Regions from separate parts of the Homo sapiens genome. Here region 2 is linked to region 1. Evidence: fine-mapped expression QTL. A gene starts in region 1. The other region holds a variant in brackets. All regions are shown on one strand. Distances are from middle to middle.

Region 1 (2,910 bases):
TTTCACTTTCTCAAGGCAGCTTCTCTGAGAAATGTACAAGCCACGCCGCGAACCGCCCGCCCGGAAAGCTCTGGCGGCTGAGGTGGTGCCTCCCTAGGCGGCCCCTGCCCCTCCCGGCACCGTGGTCCTCGAGGGCGGCACCGAGTACCTTGCCCAGCAGCTGCACCGGGGACACTGCCGACGCCAGGCGGCAGCTCTGGCATCAAATGCCTGAGCTGAGGACGCATCTTCCAGATGCCACAGCCCTTCCCTGCTGGCTCCCGGGCCTCCCGCCTCTTGGCCTCCTGCCTGCTGTAACCCACGCCTGTTCCTCTATCCGCCCCCGAGAGCCCCTGTCCCCAGGCCCTGGGACCCGCAGCAGGTCAGTGCTGCTAGAGCGAGCCTGCGCCTCGGGACACACGGCCCCTGCGGCTCCCCCGCGGTCCTCCGGGGCCCCCGTCTGGGCGTGACCCGCGCCCCCAGCGGCCTCCCCGGGGCCCCGGACCTGACGAGCGCAGCCCCGCGCGCCCCGGCTCACTGCGCCACTCTCGCGCGTCGGCGTCCCCAGGCTCCCCGGGAGGGGGCGGCGGGTGCTTCGGGTCATCAGCCCGGGAAGTATTTTTGTCCTGGGGCCGCCAGGAGAGGACAGTGGCCCGAGCAGGGTCCAGGAGAGCTGGGACACAGCCCTTCCCCAAGCCCCCTTTTGATTTTCCTTCTCGAAGCCTCGGCTGGGGCGGGGGCACCAACAGGCAGGTGTGTGGGGCCGGCAGGGGGCAGATCAAAGAAGACACTTGCTCCTTCCCCTTTGTCATGCAGAGCCAGCTCGGAAGTGAGCCGGCCCCCAGCCCGGGACTAACAGCTTCCACGCCCGACTCCCCTCAGACCCCCCCTCCTCTGGAGGATGCCCCTCCCCCTCTCCTCTCCCCCCATAAATCCTCCTCGTCCCCCGGGGCAGAAGGTCTGTGAATGCACCGGCTGGAACCACGAGAGATGGAGCAGAGATAGGGCTGGCACCAGGAGCTAATGGTTTTATGGAGGGGAGGCGACCAGGTCCCGAGTAGGGAGGACGAGAGAAAAGCTTCAAAGCGTTTCCTTGTCCAAATATCCTTAACTCCACCTACCAGTCCTTCCCGGGGTTGCAGAGCTAGGGCCGCCCGTGCCCTCCTGCTTCTCCAGCCTCCTCCCCGCGGCCCCGAAGCCTCCTGCCCAGCCTATGCCCAGCCCGTGCCCAGCCCACCACCCTGCCGCCCGCAACACCTACTCTCCCTGGGGACTTTGATCCTCACACATTTCCACCACCAGATAGCGGAGTTCTTCCTCCCCGCCTGTGACACTTGTCCCTCACACCAGTGCCTCTCACCTCTGTCACCCGTCCATCAGGCTCCAGTGGAATCTCTCTGGTCCTGCAGTTCCTAGGTTCAAACTAGGCTACATTGGGGGCCACCGTTTCCGAGCCAAAGACAGGCCTGGGTGCCTGCTAATGGTCACTGTGGCTGTGACTGCCCCCAGGACAGGCTGACACGGTAACTAGAGCCAGACTTCCCAGGAGCTGCTAATCCCGCCCTCAGTGCCTTATAAACATATATGGAGACAAGAATCACTCCCGCAGCTGTTTCTACTCCATCCCCCGCCCCGGGCTTTCCACGAGGCGGCTCTCAGCCCATTAAAAATGTTTTTTTTTTTAAAAATTGCCCCCCAAAATGGCTCTAACATGTGCAGTGGCTTCTTTCTCTGACTTCCAGATGTGTGGTACCTGAAACTGAACTCCCCCATACACACATATGCACGCGCGCGTGCACACACACACACACAACACACACACCAGCCCCCTCAGGACGCTCTCTGTCCTGGCAGACAGATGCGAGCCAATTCTTGAGTGGCCATAGAACTGAAGCCAGGCAGCTGTTTGCCCTCTCTTACATTCTTGTGCTGGGGTGGGCTGGGGTGGGAGGAGAAAGGACCCCTTAGAAAGGTAAATGCTGGCGACTGGTTTCATCAGCATGGGCAGAATGGAAATTTCTTGCCTCAACCCGACTGGGAAGGCAGGAAGCTGTATGGGGGCTGACGGTTTTGTGTTAATGAGCAGGTCACATTGGGACCCCTGTTTGTGGGTCACTAGTGAGATTTATAGCAGGATTCAACCAGGGGAGGCTCTCCTTGTGTAGGAAGAAAGATCTGGTAAATGCCCAACAGGCAGGAAAAGGCCTTTGCAATAACTACAGATTTCCCCAGGGTCTAAAAAGATTCCCCTTCCTAAGAGGCAAGTGTCAATTCAAACATACCAAACACAGTAGTTAAGAATGCGGGGCTCTTCGGGGGGCCAAGGTGGGCAGATCACCTGAGGTCAGGAGTTCGAGACCAGCCCGGCCAACATGGTGAAAGCTCACCTGTAATAAAAAAGTATAAAAATTAGCCAGATGTGGTGGCACATGCCTGCAGTCGCAGCTACTTGGGAGGCTGAGGCAGGAGAATCGCTTGAACCTGGGAGGTGGAGGTTGCAGTGAGCCAAGATAGCACAACTGCACTCCAGCCGGGTGACAGAGCAAGACTCCATCTCAAAAAAAAAAAAAAGTGGGAGTCAGGGTCTCTATTCTTTAGTAGTAGTGACTAGGAGGCTGTGGGGAGGGAAAGATGCAAAATTCCCAATCAGGATCCTTCCAGAAGCCAGAATGAGCTGGTCAGACATCTGCTCTGTTCCTCCTCTTCATTCATCCATGCAGCCATTCAATACATTCATTAATCAAATGAATTACACCCTGGGTGCCTAATATGTGCCAGTTACTGCTCTAAGTGCCAGAGACATGGCAGTGAACAAACAAATGTATCATAAGTTAGGTCCAGTGAATACTATGAGGAAAATAAAGAGGGGACCAGAATCAAGAATGGGAAGGGGTGGTAGCATACTTGATGTAGGGTTCTTGGGAAGACTAC
Region 2 (2,910 bases), 21 kb after region 1:
AATTGAAACAAAACACACAGAGTTAAAACGCACAAGTCTTAAATGTACAGCTTGATGAGTTTCCACATATGCATAGACGCATGAAACTAAGACCCAGACCAAGAACCACCTAACCATGGGCAAACCAAACTGATATGCTGCAGATAAATGCAAGAGTAGAATCTAGTTGGATCTCTAATATACCTTTTAAAAGTTGTTTTAGCTGGGCAGTGAGGTCCACGCCGGAAATCCCAGCATTTTGGGAGGCTGAGGCAGGTGGATCACTTGAGACCAGGAGTTAGAGACCAGCCTGGGCAATATAGGGACACCCTGTCTCTACAAAAAATTTTAAAATTAGCTGGGTGTGGTGGCGCATGCCTGTAGTCCCAGCTGCTTGGTAGGCTGGGGCAGGAGAATTGCTTGAGACCAGCAGTTCAAGGCTGCAGTGAGCCATGATTACACCACTGCACTCCAGCCTGAGCAACAGAGTGAGACCCTGTCTCAAAAAACAAAACAAAACAAAACAAAACAAAACAAAAAGAAAAAGAAATGAAAATATAAAAGTTGTTTTATTGTTGTTGTTTATTCTGATATTTAGAGACAGTTTACTCCTTCTGGGGCTTTGTGGGTGGGAAGTCAACTAACAAGGATCTAGGAAACACTAGGAAATATTCTCCCAGCAGGCACACACACACTCATTCAGGATAGTATTTTCCACTTGTTGGCCGGGCGCAGTGTCTCACACCTGTAATCCCAGCACTTTGGGAGGACGAGGCGGGTGGCTCACTTGAGGTCAGGAGTTCGAGACCAGCCTGACCAACATGGAGAAACCCCGTCTCTACTAAAAATGCAAAATTAGCCAGGCGTGGTGGCTGGCTGTAGTGGAACTTCTCGGGAGGCTGAGGTGGGAGGATCACCCCAGGAGCCCAGGAGCCCAGGATCCCAGGAGGTTGAGGCTGCAGTGAGCCATGATTATGCCATTGCACTTCAGCCTAGGCAACAGAGTGAGACCCTGTCTCAAAAAGAAAAAAAAAAGAATTTTCTACTTGTTTAGGGATCTCTCAGGATCCCTAACATGTAAGAAATATTTAGGAAACCAGGCTCTGACTTACTGCCACCACGTATTTTGCATCCCTAATATTTAGTAACAGGGCGTGAAGCAGTTGACTTTTATATGTAATCTGGGCGCTTCCTCTTACATAACACCAGAAACTTCT[C/T]GTTCTCTCCAACTTTTTTTTCCGTTTGTAAGACATTTCTTTCCCATGGTAGGACAGTGACAGTTGACAATGCTTTTTTTCCAGATCTTCCATTCTTCTTTTTCTAGCTTTGTCTTAGAATTAAAATGAACAGTTTCAAAAATAAACTTGATTTTCTTTAAAAGAAAGAAAACAAAACAAACAAAAACCCTTAGTTTGGAACACAACCCATGGTTGGAAGTGAACCACCTGCTCTCTCCCACAGCCATGGATAATTCAGTGTTACCCATGGGATTATGCTGGCCAAGGATTTCAAAATGCTCATATTTCAAGCACTTACTATCTTATACTATATAACACTGAAAAATACTAGTTAGCATATTAATTCATGTAGTAGCCCCAACTTTCTGTCAGTTTGTGACATCTTACAGGGTGTTTTTAATAAGCAATAGGTTTACAATGAAAGTTGTGATGGTCAGGATGTTAATATAGCATTAAGGAAGCAAATGTGTATTAAACTTTATTAGCAGCTCCTGGGCATTTCCTGTAGTGAAGCTTTACAGACTAAGACACATTTCTGATGTAATCACAAGGCAAGCTGATTCAATTTTGGCTCTGCCAGCGGTGACAATTTCTTAGTATACTATTGTTTAAAGTATGCCCTACTTTTTAAAGTTTATAGATATAAAAGCAGGAAAATGGCTGAAAGAGGGATCCCAAAGATTGTGTTTTCCATTTTCCCATAGCACTTCAGCAGCCATTGACATGCCTGAGGACATCCATCATCACTCCATCTGAAATTTCTCCTTTTCCTCCCTTTATTGCCGGAAGATCACTGAGCAACCCTAATCACACAGCAGTCTAAGTGATCAAACTTTTATGTACTGCAGCGAATTTCTTACCATTCCAATTGCTCACAAATTTATTGAAATATCAAGTAAAAAGGCAACAATAGGCCAGGTGCAGTGGCTCCTACCTGTAATCCCAGCACTTTGGGAGGCCGAGACGGGTGGATCACCTGAACTCAGGAGTTCAAGACCAGCCTGGCCAACATGGTGAAACCCCGTCTCTACTAAAAATACAAAAAAAAAAAAATTAGCTGAGCGTGGTGGTACATGCCTGTAGTCCCAGCTATTCGGGAGGCTGAGGCAGGAGAATCCCTTGAACCCGGGAGGCGGAGGTTGCAGTGAGCCGAGATCGCATCACTGCACTCCAGCCTGGGTGACAAGAGCGAGACTCCGTCTCAAAATAAATAAAGGCAACAATAGCAGATGACTGCAATCCTGAGTGTGCGCCTGGGTGAGGAGACTCAAAGACGCTCGGCATGTCGGAGGAGAGATGCGTTCAACCTGAATTGTTCCCGTGACCCTGAGAAAGTGACTTCTCATTCTCTGCTTTATTTTCATTTGTAAACAAATAAAAAGCAAGCAAACAAAAAGCAACCATTGTCATTAAATGTCTACACAGTGCTTTTGTTAAATATTTACACCTGCTTTGAGTGTCATCTGGTCACTAAGATTTGCTATTATGTGACAACTCTCATTTAGGTTCCCTGAACCAGTTAAATTAAGGAAATTAAGGAATTCTTTTTTTTTTCTTTCTTTCTTTTTTTTTCTGAGACAGAGTCTTGCTCTGTCACCCAGGCTGGAGTGCAGTTGCGTGATCTCAGTTCACTGCAACCTCCGCCTCCCCAGTTCAAGCAATTCTGCCTCAGCCTCCTGAGTAGCTAGGATTA

Direction of the effects. Positions count from the first base shown, and alleles are read on the strand shown. Sizes are in standard deviations (SD) of each study's normalised expression.
In carriers of allele C in region 2, the expression in whole blood of the gene that starts at base 1,480 in region 1 tends to be higher than with T alone (large effect, 0.75 SD a copy in Lepik 2017).

What was found. PIP is the estimated chance that this variant, and not a neighbour inherited with it, causes the effect. A credible set is the group of variants that fine-mapping cannot tell apart.
Region 2: its variant is the best candidate, but not a certain one, in a credible set for the expression of WNT5B in whole blood (Lepik 2017, PIP 0.67).

What each region holds. Positions count from the first base shown.
Region 1 is chr12:1,627,801-1,630,710 of GRCh38, reverse strand. It overlaps WNT5B (Wnt family member 5B), which reads right to left and starts at 1,480. Exons shown (of 5, transcript NM_032642.3): 1 at 1,340-1,480. RefSeq lists silencers at 34-328, 283-342, 373-562.
Region 2 is chr12:1,607,195-1,610,104 of GRCh38, reverse strand. No RefSeq gene overlaps it. Among named protein-coding and RNA genes, the nearest start is that of FBXL14, 14 kb to the right of the region's middle. The variant C/T (reference allele first, on the strand shown) is at 1,197.